Regions from separate parts of the Homo sapiens genome. Here region 2 is linked to region 1. The links come from fine-mapping of genetic effects on gene expression. A gene starts in region 1. The other region holds a variant in brackets. All regions are shown on one strand. Distances are from middle to middle. Region 1 holds the start of MYLK4 (myosin light chain kinase family member 4). Region 2 overlaps MYLK4 (myosin light chain kinase family member 4).

The links.
Region 2: its variant is fine-mapped to the expression of MYLK4 in B cells (Schmiedel 2018, PIP 0.95). The same link has a PIP of 0.9 or more in Th1/17 cells and naive CD4 T cells.

The regions. Positions count from the first base shown.
Region 1 is chr6:2,747,409-2,756,312 of GRCh38, forward strand. It overlaps MYLK4 (myosin light chain kinase family member 4), which reads right to left and starts at 3,514. Exons shown (of 13, transcript NM_001012418.5): 1 at 3,328-3,514; 2 at 1,728-1,998. The coding sequence starts at 1,886. RefSeq lists a silencer at 5,087-5,381.
Region 2 is chr6:2,673,878-2,682,781 of GRCh38, forward strand. MYLK4 (myosin light chain kinase family member 4) reads right to left here. Exons shown (of 13, transcript NM_001012418.5): 8 at 6,344-6,414; 9 at 5,403-5,531; 10 at 4,343-4,495; 11 at 1,170-1,248. Among named protein-coding and RNA genes, the nearest start is that of LINC01600, 44 kb to the left of the region's middle. The variant GT/G (reference allele first, on the strand shown) is at 4,834.

The sequences.
Region 1 (8,904 bases):
GATCATAGCTCACTGCATCCTTGAACTCCCGGGCTCAAGCAATCCTCCTGCCTCAGCCTCCCAAGTAGCTGGGACTACAGATGTGTGCCACCATGCCCGCTATTTTATTTGTATTTTTTTATTTTTGTAGAAATAGACATCTCACCATGTCACCTGGGCTGGTCTCAAACTCCTGGCCTCCAGTGATTCTCTTGCCCCAGCCTCCCAAAGTGCTGGGATTACAGGTATGAGCCATGTGTCCTGCTTATCTCACTCTTTAGAGTGTTGCCCATTTATAAAAATTGTATCATAGATTTTGGAGAAAAACAGTACTTGAAAGATAATGAAATTCATATAAACTATTACAGTTAGTTGATGATTTCAAAGTTCTCCAAGAAGAATATTTTGTCTTCTCTGTCCTACCGAAATTAATAAACAGAAAAAATTATCCTGTTTGTACCACTGAAAACCCTAATGAGAAAGTCATGTCTCACTTAATTTTGCCTGTAGATATTTCTCCTTGGTCTATATTGAACTCATGGGGAAAGCAGAGGTCTCAAAAAAATGTTTCAATCTGATTCATTTATTCTCTCCAGCACATTTTGTCATTTCTTATTCACTTACAATAAAAAGCCTCCTAGACCTTTTATATACAATCTCTCTATTTCATTGTCTATTGCATTGTTAGAAACGCCCTTCCTACCTGAATAGTGTTTTTTAGAACAGTAGCTGGGCAAAGAAGGATGTTTTCCAAACCTGCCTGATAAGAATCACTTGCTCTGATTATCAAAAATAATGGTTCCCAGCCCTCAACCAGAATTCACTTAAATAGATCTGTGCATTCCAAAAACACTTTTGGTGCCTATTTGTTTCCGTTACTAGGAAAGCAACTGAGGAAACATGAACAAATAACACGAGGTTTCCCAACCTTAAGGAGCCTTGTCTAGAGAAAGGTGATCAACATGTTCAAAACCACCACATGTGCTGGAATGAAGGCACGGGCAAAATGCTTGATGCTCCCACCGGGCAAGGAGCCAACGGATGATGGGCAGGAACTGACTGGGCCAAGGCAGGGGAGGTAATTGCTGCTGCCGCTAACACATATTAAATGCTGACTCTAGTGACAGATACTAGGCGGAGTGCTTTACAGACGTGATCACACTTAATTTTCACAATTGCTATTATCTCACTAATTCAGATGTGGCAAGCCCTTGGTTAAATTAATATTTTTCCCAAGAACGAGCAGCTGGAATGGGGCTCAGAACTCTCGTTCTGCACAGAGGAGGGTACAAGCCCCACCGTCGTGCCATCAGCAAGTCTTTCTTGTCCCTTCTCTGGACTTCACTATCAACAGCTCTGCTGTCTACCGCGTGAGGAACTCAAGATCTGAAGGAAAAAGGAGAAACTTCTTTCTGCAGAACAGTGTGCCTCTCAGAGCCCTTTTCTGAATTTCAAGCCCAAATCCATCATGCTAAAGGATTCTTCTTCATTTCTGCAAGCTGGCTGTATAACTCCTAAGCCACTAACTAAAAGTGAAGTCGACTGCTGGCAGAAATGCAGTTTCAAAGGCCTCCTAATTATTTACCAAACACAATTGTATAGTCGACACACACAATTCTCACTGAAGCAAAGTGGAATGATGCCTATTCATAAACTTTCCTTAATTGTACTCACAAGCGGCTCCATGACATTAGAAAAGATAAGATAGAATGAATACTTTTTAGGAGACTAAATTAGAACATGATTACCTCATTATGTCCAGATCTTGAATCCTGGTCCCCAGAATTTTTTTCCAGAAAACACTTCACTTTCTCCACCTCTTCCCTGCACTGAAAAAAGGCCATTTTCTCCAGCTGGTTGCTGTTATAACACGTGTTGAATTCTTCCAGCCTCTTCACTTTTAACATCTTAGTAGTGAGTCCGATTAAGCTACTTTCTGGAGTGTGGTTTTCGTCTCCCTCTGTCTCCGATTTATAAATCAGGACACAATTATGACTCTTCAGTGCTTCTTTCTCTTGACTGCAAAGAAAGGAAACACAAAAAGTTCTCATCACGTATTCATGCATTTGACTTCTTGAGAAAATGACCAGTGAGAATTTGGAAGTCCCTTCTGTTTAAACTGGAGAGAGGATCCAAAATCAGGAAAAGAAATACTAACATTCATATTGAGTTTCCAACATTGGAACTTTAAAAGGAAAAAAAATTTTTTCACTTTAAAACTACAAAAGCAAACAGTAAGAAGCAATGTCAAGATTCACTGGTGATGAAATATGCTCCTTATTGCACAAAACAAGCCGTAGATCAAGTGGCCAGCTTGGATGTAAATTATAAAGTATCTTTGGGTTTAATTGGAACCGCAGGTTTTGCAGCCCCGTGGGAAGGGCTTATCACAGAAGGGGTCTCTCTGCTTCCCCTGGCCTCCCTCTGCAGAGGGATCGCTCCCGAATGAGTCCTTTTCCAGAACTCTTCTCTACCTATGCCTTAAAATGTGTGGTGTTTATTTGTGAAAAGAAATTTATTTCCTTACAGTCTTCTCACGTGGACAGCACTCCCAGATACCTTTCCTTGCATCTGCATTAACAGCTATGTACCGAGAAGTTCAGAGTCTTTTCACTCTCCTTAAAATACTTTCCTCGCAAATGAAGTAATGCAGCATACATAATTCGCTTTGATACTAGAGACATATACGCATGTCTATATGTACACATCACTTGATTGCATAGAGAGGCAGGGAGAGGGAGAGACATTTGAATTTGTGCTAGTTCCGCATGGCTGACAACTGAGGCCCCCTGGTGGAGATTTTCCGAAAAGCGCCTCTTCGAGCATTTTCTCCGCTTAAAAACCGTATTGTGATTCTCATCAGAAAACTTAATATTTTGTTTTGTCAGTTCCTATAGTAAAATGATACTCTTGAGTTCCAAAGTGTTTAAAATTCACTGCTCTAACAAATTATACTTATCCACATAAAGAGCTTACATTCAAACAAATAAAAATGCAAATATTAATACTATCAACCAGAGCTCTACAGATATATTACAGATCATTCTTAGCATTCTTTCAAATTGCCCTGAAAAAATTATTAAAATAAGGAAACAAATGCATGGCTATTTCTAAGGCAAACTACGACTAAAATACTATGGTTAATTGCAGATGAAACTCAAGTTGGATCAGGAAGCCACACAAAATTAATGTATTAAAACAAAAGCTTAGGATTAAGATACAATAATTTTGCAAAGAAATATTAAACATTAAGCTCTACCTGAAGTTTGGTACAATTTGTTATTGAAGGTAACTTAGAAAAAAGGGGAGGAGATTTGAGAGGTTATAACAATAAACAAAGATAATTACCATTGATAGGATCACATCGAAGAGCTTGAGCCACTCCAAGTCTAGAGCATACATTCCAGAAGATAAAGAGAAATTTTGCAGAATTCAAACTGACTATGAAAGTCTCTGGTAAAAGTTTTGACTCTCAGTCGTATAAATCTTCTGAAAAGACAAGTGTCCACTACGAGAGGAAGTATCTTCTCTCTCAAATGCCACTTTCAGCCCCTGTTTAAATTAATATGGCTCTTGATCTCACGTTGCTCAGCTGTTGCCTTCTTAGTCAGATGGGGAAGAATATTAATTTTAGACACCAGGCTTTTCAAGGCCAATGGCTCCATTTCAGAGGTCAGGTAAGGAGAGGATGAACCGGGAACACTGGATGAAATATCACCTTCACCTTTCCCTCGTATCATTGTGTCAATACTCTCGGATTTACAAAGCTAGATTTGTCCTCGGCAATCATCTGCCTGGACCTTCTGCCCCTTTCAGACTCAGGATTATTTAAGTGCTCATTAAATTTCCCCCAGTAGGGAAAATGCCAGGTGTGGCAACCCCACAGCCACCTCTGTTTGCCCATCTTACGCTTTGAGCATATCCAACTGCAATATAGAAGATCTTCTGAAAGCAGTTAGCAAGTTTGTTTTATTTTTCTCAGTTCTTAAAGATGTTTGCAAAGTCTCCAACCATTTCTAGCTCTAGGGAAAGGTCAAAGGCACAGGCATCCAGGAAACAGGAATAAATTTTTCATAAATTCTCCTTAAGCAACACTAGGACTTCATCCGTAGTTTTCTGCACAGACCAAGAAAGGGGAATTTCAACCCACCTGCCCGACTCTCACAGTAGTGCATCCCTAGATTCACTGAAGTGGCATAAAACTTTGATTGCCCAGAGGCTGGACTTTGCAGTCTTGAAAACCCTGCAATTTTTCAGGGCCTGGCCAATTGTCACCTCTTATTTGGAGCCTGTGTTAGCCCCTCTATGCCCCATTCTAACACCAGCCTCTGCTGCTCTTCTGCTTCTTTTAAAAAAAAAACCTTATTTTTAATTCAGATCGATGCATTCCATGTGAAATAAAAATACATATTTTTCCATTTTATGTAGTATTAATGAATTACAGCAAAATCTTTTTTAAAACACAAAACGCTTGTTATTTTTCAGATTGGAGAGCTTTGTTCTTCAGCAAAAGTAATGAAGTGGAACTATAAATTTGTGGAGATAAATTATCTGACAAAAGTATTATACAAAGACTAAGCTGGTTTGAGGTTACCAATTTTGTTAGTATAATTAAATTGTGTAGAAGTACTGATAAGGCAACAAATGCCCTGCCAGAGGCAAGATGTGTGTGGGCTGCTGCTGATCCAACCACATCCTCCACCCGGACCACCACCACGCAAAAGCAGACTTCCTATCTCGTTGGCTCCAGCAAACCAACCACAGGCTTGAGTGAGCCAGAGGCCAGGAGAATCTGCTCCTTAGCTTATTTTTTTGTAATAAACTTTTCCTTTTAGAGTAGTTTTACATCTACAGAAAAGGTGCAAAGGTAGTTCAGAGTTCCCCTTGCCCTGCACCCCGAATCCTCTGTTTTTAACATCTTACGTTGGTATGGTATACTTGTCACAATTAATGAACCATGGTGAACGTTATTATTAACTAAACTCAATACTTTATTGTTGCTGGGTTTTTTTTTTCCCCAAATGCCCCTTTTCTGTTCCAGAATCCCATGCAGGATTCCACAGTACATTTAGAATCAGTAGGATTTATGATAGATTGGGTATGGGGTATGAAAGAAAGATGGTAGACACCTTTGCATATTTTCTTCTGAGCACTTGAAAGACAGAGTGAACATTAACTGAGATGGAGACGGCTGTGGGAAGGGCAACTCTGGAGGGAAAGGTCAGGCATGAAGTCTTTGGCAAGTCCATTAAACGTTCAAGTTGAATAGGCTGTGGAGATAGAAACTGGAGTTCCGGGGAGGGGTGTAGGCTGGAGATAAGAATTTGGAAGGCATCCACATATAGACATTTCCATGCACAATATACATTCAATACATATTTGATTAATGACTAGATAGAATGATCTTTAATTGTGTCTACTTGCCCTAAAAAGCAAGTCAATTAAAATAATCCATGCTAAAAGTGACTGATTGTCTGGTTCTGCTGCATCACACTGTTCCCAGCTTCCGATGGCATACAGGACAAGCACACTGCTGGCACAACCCTTGACCACAAAAAAACAGGTTATACATGCATACTCATTCTGGTCTATCAGCCTAGCCTCAGGATCCTAAGTCCATACCCATAAAATGTTCTGCATGCTTAAAGATGCTCTTATACCCGGAAAAATTCATTAGTGAGGAATATGAGCAGGCCCAGGAACACTTTTCCAGTATTTCCATATTTTGGAGTTATACTTCTCTAAAAAATACCAACATCAGGAAAACAGCACCCTACAGAGCCATGGAAAAGAATCCCTTGATTTTTTTCAAGGGACATTTCCATTAGCTGAGTAAGAGACTGTGTTGTCAAAGGAGCCACATGAAGAAACATCGTCGACAGCTCTTGTCTACGGGTTGGCATTGAAACCCGGCTGGATTACACTAAGAGTTTTTGTTTCTACACAGCGTTCTGAATGTTTCCAGAACAAGACCTCTTGAATGTTTACACACAAAAGCGGAGCAACAGTACAAATACCCAAATGCAAATAAAAAGCTACTGCATCCCTGTTACCCACATTACAATAGAACTTCCTTACTTTCAAAAATCACCACTGAATACGACCCATAAAAACGAAGATTGATAAATTGCACTTCTTCAAAATTCAAAACGTTTGCCTTTGAAAAAACACTATTAGGAAAATGAAAAGACACTATTATGAAAATGAAAAGACCAGCTACAGATGTATAGAAAATACTGTGAAGTCACATATTTGACAAAGGACTGCATCTAGCATATACAACTTAATAATATATGACAAAACATTCCAGTTTTTTAAATGGACAAAAGATTAAAACAGACCTCACCAAAGAAGATATAAAAATGGTTAATAAGCACATGAAAAAAAATGCTCAAAATCAGTCATCAGGGAGATGCAAATTAAAACCACAAGGAAACATCATTTCACACCCACTAGGAGAGCTGTAATAATAATGAAAAAAATAAAAGATAGGTTGGGTGTGGTGGCTCACACCTGTAATCCTAGCACTTTGGGAGGCCAAGACAGGAGGATCACTTCAGTCCAGGAGTTTGAGACCAGCCTGGGCAACATAGCAAGACCCCATCTCTACCAAAAAAAAAAAAAAAAAGACAGAGAAAAGCAAGTGTTGACAAGGATGTGGAAAAACTGGAACCCTCACCAAATATGTTGATGGGAATATAAAATGATACAGGTGTCTTATAAAAGAGGTTGGCAATTTCTTAAAAAGTTATTTCCCATATGACCTAGAAATTCTTCTCCTAGGTATCTACCCAAGAGAAATGAAAACATATGAACACAGAAACCATGGCACATGAATGTTCACAGCAGCATTATTCACAATAGCCAAAAACTGAAAACAACCAAAATGTCCATCGGATGATTTGGAGACTGGGAAAAGATAATGTGGTATACACATACAAATGGAATACTACGTAATTAAAAGGAATGAAATACTGGTATCTACTACAATATGGATGAGCGAAAACACTGTGCTAATTGAAAAAAAAAAGCCAGAAACATAGAGCACAGATTGTATGATTCCATTTGTATAAAATGCTCAGAAAAGACAAATCTATAGACGTAGAAAGCAGACTGGTGGTTGCCGGGGGCTGGGTGCAGGAATGGGGGTTAATTGTAAACAGAATCTTACCCGATGATGTGTGGTAGTGATGACTGTACAACTCATTCAGTTTCTTAAAACAATGCAGAATTGTGCACTTGAGATGGGTGAATTTTATAATATGTAAATTATACTTCAATAGAGTCATTAAGAAAAAGAAAACCCAATAATATGATTAACAAAAAGTAGCTTGTTAAAAGGAGAGGAAAAAACTGAACACTTTGTGGTCATCTGTCCCCAGTGACCAAGGCTGGGATCCAGGGAAACATAAATTATATTCCACACTTGCCAGGTCACCTAGGGCCAAAGAAAAGGAATGGTGAGCAGGAGACAGTTAAGAGTCTCACGCTTTTCTTCTCCTGGCATGAATATCATGCAATATAAGATTTTGTAATTAATAGAAAAATTAATAGTAATTTTAAAAGTAATTTCTATCTTTTATTTTCTGCTTGGAGATAGGATACTTTGAGCAAGAAAGATAATGATGTTATGGAATATCCAGATTTCTTTACAGGAAATTTTGATATTAGACCACTAAAACTTCTAAGTGACAGCAATTAGCTAAGTATTACGAAATACAAAAATGAAAATAAAACAGGTTTTAAAAATTAGATAAAAATATGGATTGGATCATTTAAAAATTAATATTTTTCAGAAATATTACATAAAGTTTCAGTTTATTACCTCTACAGTGGCTACACAAATTGTTCCTTTAATTATATCCCTTAAACTTTCTAAGGGATATTTGCAAGCATAGTACAATGAATACCTATACATCCTTCACCCATATTCACCAAATGTTAGCATTTTCCATGTTTGCCCTCTCTCTCTCTTTTGCGAGTAAGATGCATATCTCATGAAACTTTACCCCTATATGAATTGGTGTATGTTTCTTGAGAAAAAAGACACTTTCTCACATAACAGAATCTACTCAAAAATTACATAGCGCATTTAATCACCATGTCTTCTTAGTCTCCTTTTATCTATTTAGGAAATGGTCATTCCGTTTATTTTATTTTATTTTACTTTTTGAGACAAGGTCTCACTCTGTTGCTTGTGCTGGAGTGCAGTGGCGTGAACACAGCTCACTGCAGCCTTGACCTTGGCTCAAGTGATCCTCCTGCCTCAGCCCTCCAAGTAGCTGGGACTATTGGCAGGCACCACCACACCAGGCTAAGTTTTGTATTTTTTGTGGAGATGAGGCTTCCTAGTCTCTCTCTCTTTTTTGTAATCCTTCATGACATTGATATTTTTGAAGTCTTTGGACAAATTGTTTCATAAAATGTCTCTCAATTCTAATTTCCTGATTGTGTCTTCATGCTTGGAACCAGGTTATACCTGAGCATGAAAACTACAGAAGTGACACTGTATCTTTTTCAGAACATCACAAAAGGTGGCACATGATGTCGGTTTGTGCCATTATTCGTGATATTAAATTTGGTGATCTGATTAAGGTTGTGTCCACCAGACTTCTCAAATGTAAAACTAACCCTTTTATTTTTGTGATTGATAAATAACTTGTGGGAATTTATAGGTATCATGTTCCCCAACAATGCATCACCCAACGTTTCTCAGTATCTATTCTTGAGAATCAATGATTACCACAGAGACTGTGAAATGATTTTCTAATTCTGCCATTTCTTCTATACTTATTAATTGGTATTCTTTTATAAAGAAGAGCTTTCCATCCCCATCCTGAACCTCACTCTCTTTAGTATCAGGATGAGCTTATGGCCTTTTAAAAATGGACATACACTCCCTATATTCTTTATTTTGAAGCTCAA
Region 2 (8,904 bases), 74 kb before region 1:
ATGTACACAACATGGAGGTAAATTAAACATGAGATGGGGGCTCGAGGGAGAGGAAGGAAGCAAAGAAGATGTACGGGGGCTGGCTGGGGCCGCTCCATGGGCATCCTTCCCTAAGAGGATCACTGATGGTGAGGCAAGGGGCAGGGAGATGAGATTAGTTTAGGGATGGGAAGATCCTGGTGGAAACATCTAGTACACAGATGGACATATGGATCTGCAGCTTAGGAAAGATATCTGTGCCAAAGAGACAGATGAGGAAGTCGGAATATAAACATCTGGTAATTAAGGCAATGAGAGTAGGTGAAGATTTCATTGTAAGAAGTTATTACAGAGAGTGGGCTAGGTTATTCACAATACTCAGTCTGTAGTCTAAGAGTCTCCCACACATAGACTTGTATAGATACCCGGACTAAGCTGAGTATTAGAGTTAAGATTTGGTGCCCAGAGCAGATCAAGCCAGGTGAGCACAGAATTTAGAATTCTGAATTCTGTTTTAAGGAGGCATATTTCTCCTGAATGAACATTACTATATATTCTCCAGAACTTTATATGTTTATAGGTTATATGTGTGTATGTATGTGCACATAAGACAATGAAGTAATTCATTTTATAATGGATACAATAATTTAATAATAAACAGTTATGCTGAAAATACTCTGTTAAACAACAAATACATTATTTTTAAAATGTAAACTGCTCAAAAAAGCATTTTAAGGCCGGGTGCAGTGGCTCAGGCCTGTAATCCCAGCACTATGGGAGGCCAAGGTGGGTGGATCACGAGGTCAGGGGTTTGAGACCAGCCTGACCAACATGGTGAAACTCTGTTTCCACTAAAACTACAAAATTAGCCAGGCATGGTGGCACACGCCTGTAATCCCAGCTACCTGTGAGACTGAGGCAGGAGAATCGCTTGAACCAGGGAGGTGGACGTTGCAGTGAGCTGAGATCGTGCCATTGCACTCTAGTTTGGGCAACGAGAGTGAAATTTTGCCTCAAAAAAAATTTTTTTTAAAAAAGCATTTTAAGTAATTTAATACTGCACAAGATTTGCAGTCTGTGAGAAAAAGAATGAGAAAGAATCTTATTTAAGGTTAAGATGACTCCAGCATCTGATCTTCAAAAGACAGGCAGACAGGAGAAAAAGAGGAAGAGCAAGAAGCCGTGGTCACCTGGGCATTGAGTCTGGAGTGGAGCTTGTGGTCTGACAACCAGGGGTGCTTGAGAGCTTCGCTTGCACTTATTCGCCAACTAGAAGGAAATTCAGAAGGTGATTAGTAGAAACACACCGAAGAAGGCCTGTATCTGCTGTTCAATCTCAACTCCAGCTTCTGCCTTCGGGAGACCAGATGGCCGAATGTCAACTCATGGTCAATTCTGCCTTCTCTTGAATTGTGTGCTATCAATGATGGCATAGGTGACTATCGAATCCAATCAGGATAACATTAGTAAAGACAAACAAGGCAAATAATAAAAATTCTTGTTAATAACTGAACATTTACTTTCAAATATAAGTAACCATTTCTGTAGTATAACATCTGAGCTTAGTAAAGTGGATTCCTATCAGTCAGTTGAAAAATAAATATATATTTATTATTGTAAGAACAAAATGCTACAATGATTCTTGATGATTGCCAAAGCAATTTGTGTATTAAAACTTTTGAATAATAAATATTACTAACTTTTGAATTGAGAAGTTTTGAGTTAAATAGGTAGGGAAATAGAGTCGATGTAATTATTAAGAGAGGGACCATTAGATACTTTTATGAAGAAACAATATCCTTTTGGAGCCAGCAAAGGTTTATAAGATTTTGGGAAATAATATGAGGAAGAATAATATAGATTTACCATATTTAAATTCTAAGTTCTATACATTTGTTTGATGTGCTAACATTTATCACATTAAAACAAATAACCTTTCAAAATAAAAACTGTAGGCCAGGTGCAATGGCTCATGCCTGTAATCCCAGCACTTTGGGAGGCCGAGGCGGGTGGATCACGAAATCAGGAGTTCAAGACCAGTCTGGCCAAAATAGTGAAACCCCGTCTCTACTAAAAATACAAAAAATTAGCTGGGTGTGGTGGGGCACACCTGTAATCCCAGCTACTCAGGAGGCTGAGGAAGGAGAATCACGTGAACCCAGGAGGTGGAGGTTGCATTGAGCCAAGATCGTGCCATTGCACACCAGCCTAGGTGACAGTGTGAGATTCTGTCTCAAAAAAAAAAAAAAAAATGAAAAAACAAACAAACAAACAAAAAACCTGTAAGTGAATGTAACAATCTGAAGTCAAAGAGGCAGTTTCAAGCAGTAATGAAGCTTCAGTTTGTAGGATTGCTTCAATGCAATCGCTTCATCAGATACCAAAATATTTAAGTATAAGATTTGAAGAGGAGATAAGTCTTTATTACATCAATGAACTTGGTGACAACATCACCATTATAGTGCCAAAAACAGGCAGAGGTAATTTTTAAAAACCTCGTGACCTCCATCAACCTCAGTTGGAAGTGTGGTTCTGCTTAGTGTCATAAATTTTCAGTACTGGATCTCCAGAGCATTCCAATGGCTGACCAAGGTGAAAAATGATGATTCTGTACTCTAGTGTCGAACTTCTTAAATCTGGCTATTAAAAAGTTAACAATAACATTGTACTAATAATTAAACTTAATAACATTTCAAGTTTATTTCTGTACCCCAGAAATTTATTCTATGATAGTGGTGTTTGGCTTTTGGCTTTAGTTTCATCCAAGCATTGACTGGAATTCTAAGCCAGTTGCCATCGGCCCAAATGGGCATCTGATGCTCCTTGGGCATTCATGAAGCCCTCAGACTGAAGGAGTGAGCGGCACTGGAGCCCACTGGGCCCACCTCTGCATCTGCTCTGAGATAGCCGTGTGACTGCAGCACTGCTCTCAGCCTCAGTTTCCCCATGTGTAAAATGATGGTCTCCACAGACCACAGGATTATCCAGAAGCCAAATAAGATAACACATGAAAGTACACATGTAAAACAGGTTCACAGTAAATGTGGACTTCTCGTCCTCCAAAGATTTGAAAGGGTTGACAGTTTCCATCTGTTCACTGCCTTGGGTAGAGTAATGTGCTCATAATAATAACCTTGGCTGTTATTGTGCCTTTCCATCAAGGCACAATACTAGCCAAGGTTATTATTATTATTAATCCATTATTTGTGAATTGTCCCTCCTGTCGGACTGATACCCCTAGCCTGGCTAGGTTCTCTTCATCCTCTAAGGATGGCCTTATCTTTGTGTTAACCACATTTTATTACATCTTTTTAAAAAATATCTATCCCTTTTATTAGATGGTGAGTTACTATAGGCAGGGACTGGATTTGTGCCTCTATTCTTAGCACATGACACATTTCCTGGCACACAGTAGGTGATCAACACTTGAATGAAAGCATCTCCTGCCAAGCTGTGTGCCAGACCCACTGCCCACACTGTTTCCCCACTCCCTGTGACACCCTTCTACCTGTTGATCCACAGCCATGTGTATTAGTGACTTTAAAGCCATAAAGATAATAAAACGATAAGGCAAGTGCTATTGACCCTGAAAACCTTAACTACTTCAATCATTATACGGCTCAGGTATAAAGCCATCTGAAACAGCGTGTTTGATGGGTTAATCACAATGCCCTTCCCCTTCTATGATTCTAAAATGCAAATCCCTATATTTCAATGTCACTCTTTTTCATTCACTGAATTTTGAATTAATGTGGTTTTAGCATAACAGAAAATAGAGGGCCATGTAATAAATAACAGCCAAGTGTGCGGCCGTTGGGGAAGGAGAACTATCTGTTTGAGCCTCTGTTCTGCCAATTACTGGCGGTATGATGATGGGCAAACCACGTGGGATCTTCTACCCGATTTCTGCCTCATGGAGTTGGGGTCAGGGGTGGTAGTTAAAAGAGATAATGTCTACAAAGCACTTGGCATGATCTGGCCCACAGTAGTTTCCCAAATGAAATGGTAGTTAAAGATTCAGCTACACGGAACCATATACAGCTTAGTAGAGGTGAAAGGAATCCTAGAAATACTTCTCCCAAGCCTTCCATTTTGACAGTGAGTCAACTAAGGCCCAGCAGGAGTCCATGGCTGGTATGGCCATATGATAAATGGCAGGAAGAGAAAGGTTTGTGTAGCTTCATGACCAAAGCAGTCCCAGATCTCAGTAGACTGGGTCAAGAGGCTCAAACCTCATTCTATCCATGACTTTGCGCAAGCATCACAGATGTTAGTAAGAGAATAAATTCGAACAGCCCTGGTGGTAGGCCCTGCTTCCTTATCATCCCTACTGCGCCCGGAGCACAGGACGAACTTGCGTTACCTCTTCTCCTTAATCAGAAGCTTAGAGATGAACTCCTTGGCCTCCTCCGAGATGTCCTGAAATTCTTCATCCTCTAAGTCCCACCTGCAGGCCAGGATGTTGTTCAGCGTCTCAGCATCATTGTCACCCAGGAAAGGCGACAAACCGCTAAGTCTGGAGGACACGGGGTCCAGAGTGAGTATTTTTTAAACAGCCTCAACCCCTTTCCATACAGATTGCTTTTCTGGTTGTGCCATTTAAAGGTGAGAGAAGGAAAATAACCTAATCCTGAAGCATAATTTTATAACATATTATTGTAATCAAGAAAATGCTTGCCGCCCCCACCCAACTCCTAACTGAACAACTGCAGCAATAACAGAATATGAATATGAATATCAGCTTCCTTTTTAAAGCACTTTTCAGCTTGCAAAGTGCTACTACATGCTCAGATGGCAAACGCTAGGCATGTCACCTCTGAGGGGTGAGGCTAGCCTGAGTCATTTAGGAGATCA[GT/G]TTTTTTTTTTTTTTTTTGAGACGGAGTCTCGCTGTGTCACCAGGCTGGAGTGCAGTGGCGTGATCTCGTTTCACTGCAACCTCCACCTCCTGGAAGCAATTCTCCTGCAGCCTCCCGAGTAGCTGGGATTACAGGTGCATGCCACCACGCACGGCTGATTTTTGTATTTTTAGTAGAGATGGGGTTTCACCATGTTGGCCAGGATGGTCTCAATCTCTTGACCTCGTGATCCGCCCACCTCAGCCTCCCAAAGTGCTGGGATTACAGGCTTGAGCCACCGCGCCAGGCCATGTGAGCTTTTTAAATTAATTTTTGGCTTTTAGGTTGTGTCCTAGGAGTTAAAGTGATTAATGAAGAGGACACACATTTACTTTTCCAAATGATGTGCAGGGAAAGAATTCACTCCTTTCACCCACAGGAGTCAACAAAACCTAGAAGGCAACTGAGGATGGGACAGTGTTATTTATTTTTTAAATACCCCAATTGGGGCTTTTATTTAAAACGGCAAAACCTCAGAAAATATGCATGGAGTTGGAGAAGGGTCAGAGACAGAGGAGAGCTACTCACAGCATATAGGCGATGACCCCCACACTCCACATGTCAGTGGGAAATGAAACAAAATCATAGTTCACAACTTCAGGGGCGAGAAATTCTGGGGTTCCAAAGTTCACCTTCAGCTTCTCTCTGGGTTTGTATCTGCAATTTAAGAGACAAAGTGGAAGGATGGACGTGTCGATCAAAAATCGTGAACACTGAAATGATGTAGTCTATGAGACAAAATGACTTCAGCCATACAGCAAACTTCAGACAAACAAACATTGAAGGAAATCAAACAATCAAGCAAGAGGCTCAAAAACTTGTAAAGAGGCCCCAGAAAATTTAAAAGTCAAAATTCATACTAGGAAACCTTAAAAGCTGAACCAGTTGTTGGAGAAGCTGCTGTGAATAATGAGAACATCTGAATTACAGAAGATGACAAGAGGAAAACTGATATAGTCATTGACATGGGGATGATGTGAATAAGCCTGTAAAATGAATAAACACAGTACTGCAATAATTTACAACATCCATTTTATATGTGTCGTTAATGTGCTGAATTGTTAATGTGTCCACGTAAACTCTTTGTTCCCTGAAGAATCTTTTATGTGCCAGAACCCTTTGCAAACTTGCTTACGTTGTTAATATTTTTAAAGTAAATCTTCTCTGTACAGATGGATCAAATATGAAAGAGGGGACAAACTCTTGCAAATGCTAAATTAATGGCTTCTAATTTAATAAACTTCACTGTATTAGGTTTTAATTTTTTATACTTTTTACTGCATGCATTATAGAAACTTCTAAACACTCAAGTCTCAAATTTAGCAAGTTAAGGCCAAACATAATTTTTGTTAAATTAATTATAAATGAGATCATGAAACCAAAGAGCAGATCAGATATATGTTTGCAAAGGAAGGGCAACCATCATGTCCCCCAGCTCCATTCGTACACCTATGTCCAAATAGACATACCTTCTGGCCAATCCAAAATCAATAATTTTTATTTGCTTAGCATCCCGATTCACACACAGGATATTCTCAGGCTGCCAGGAGAAAGAGACACATTAGCAATGAAAACAACCATCATTCACTCAAATTGTCCTTGAACCACAACTAAAAATACAACGATGCTCAGAAAAAACATATCAGGCCTTTCACTTCGGGGCGGGCTTGTCCGTGTGGGTACTTTCTCCTTTAATTATGTGGTGGATGAGGTTGCGGGTATCCTGCCAACCCTGCATTATCCAGCCTGTCCTCTGCACGGCTTCACAGTTCACCATAATGCCTGAGTTCAGGCAGAGGCCTTGAGGGGAGCAAGAAAAGGAGGTTGCTTCAGTCCTTCCCAAATGTGCTGTGGAGGCCCGCTCAGGCCTGACATCTGCCCCTCTAAATTATTCAGTATGAATTTCCCCTTCTTGGAGAAATATTTTTCCCAAGATTGATGAGTTCCAAGGGAATTGACCTGCTCCATTCAAACAGCCACACTGAACATGCACTGTCACGTGAACGTTCCGGCCTCCAGAGCTTCCCTTTGCTCAACGCCTATGGGAAAGTCGCACGGCAGAGGAGGGCTTTTCTCTCCAGTCGTTCTTCAGTCTCAGCAGTTCCAAGGTTTTGCTGAGTTTGGTCTCAATGCCTAAAACCCCTGACTAAGTGTTCCCTTGGAGCTAGGCCCTGGTAAGACCTTAGCCTGCTGACCTGACAGTCTTGGGGTGCAGGGGGAGAAAATGGGGTGTAGTGCAGCCACTCAGTGTTCACAGAATGCCTTACAAGTGCACCTAATGTTTACTGGGGTAGAAAAACAGAGGTCTTGGGAAAGTAAGAGATTTGATTTAAAGTCAAGGCCATTTATAAAAGAGAAAAAAAGTTTTCAGAGTTAAGAACCCTCAGTCCCAATTCTTTACAAGCTGGAGGGCACCATCCCAGAAGCCAAATGCCCAGGATCCCGTTCCTCAGCCTTTAGTGGGATCAGGCTCCCCTCCCCAACCTGTCCAGGTGGAGAAGAGGTTCCAATGAGATCAGAAATTCAGAAACACATTATGAAATGACATAATGTCTCCTTATCAATATTCAATAGTACATTTGGTTGGGCAGAATATCTTTGGAAGCCCTTTTCTAAACTATCTCTAAAACAGATGTTTGTGAGTAAAAGTCATTATAGAGAAGGGGGTGCTACGTGAACCATTTGGTTTCATGCTTAAATCACTGATGGATCATGTATAAAGCTGTCCAATTGTGAAGGAGTACTGTGGCATCAAAAAGTTTGCAGGATATAGAGAAACCGTTTTGAGGGCATTTCAATAAGTTAGCCTTTTTATGACGATAAAATTAAACAATGTTCATTGGATAAATTTTGCAAAACAGAAAAATATAAAACAGACTGTTTGTAAGTCACCTATAATCTCCCCCCACATACTGACAATCACTCAATATTTTTGGCCCTTTTCCTTCCAAGGAGCTTTCAGAAAAGCAGCTCCTTAAGGACCCATCCAGCTGTCACCTTTATGATGATCTCTGCATCCAAGCCATAACTAAAACTGCCCACTGCAGGTCCTCAATCAATGTTATGAAGCCTCATATGGAGTCATTTGACTTACAATAGGTTTGCTCCTAGTTCCAGTTGCCAATCAAATCCCTGTAGGGATATCTGCAGAATATCTACATTCAATGAAAATGCTCCATGAAAGCATGCATTATCAAACTCAGTTCATAGTGAGGGTTTTGCTAATGATTTTTAGCCTCTGACTTTGTCATTTTATAAACCACTTCCTCCTGCTCTCCTCCTGCTCAAAAGTGAATGGGAAAGGCAAGGCACATAAATCAAGACAGTGAGGGAAGCCAAGTTATAGGAAGAGAGGCCCATGGAAACCTATTTCAGGAGGCTAAATTTATTTAGCTATGCAATCCCTAGTGAATGCAATAGATGGGATGTTATATAGATTGTATATTTTATGTTACTGTCACGCTGTGCAAACAGGGAAATGAGAAAATGACCAAGCCACACAAGACGTACTTTATGATACTTAGTCCCAATATGGGACTTGATCAGGGTTGTTGGGCCTAGGTCTTTTATTGGTTGTAACTAAGACTACATACAGTCCGATTCTAGGAACTTCATAATGAGACATGAGAGAGGTAAAGAGGGAAGGGGCAATCAATAGGAGGAGAAAGAAAGGCGGCTTGGCTTCTGTGTGCTTTCCACCATTGGCAGTGGGGTGCCCACCCCACCCTCTCTTCTCCTTAGCACTTTGGCCCCATCCTTCCGACTGTCCTCTGCTGCATTCTCCATAGGATTCTATTCCACAGGGCAGCAAACCCACAGAAAAACAAGTCCCAAAGTCTGGAGCTTCCTGAGTGACTCGAGGAGCTGCCGGCGATTCTTGGAGACCTGGAAAGGTTGACTACTACTTAGGGAATTCTGAGTTAGCTAAAATCCTCTCACCTACTTGTCCTGATGAGAGGGCTACCACGTGGATACCGCTGTGGTGGTGGTGACTGTTTTCATTCTAAACTTTTAGGGAAACCATTGCCAT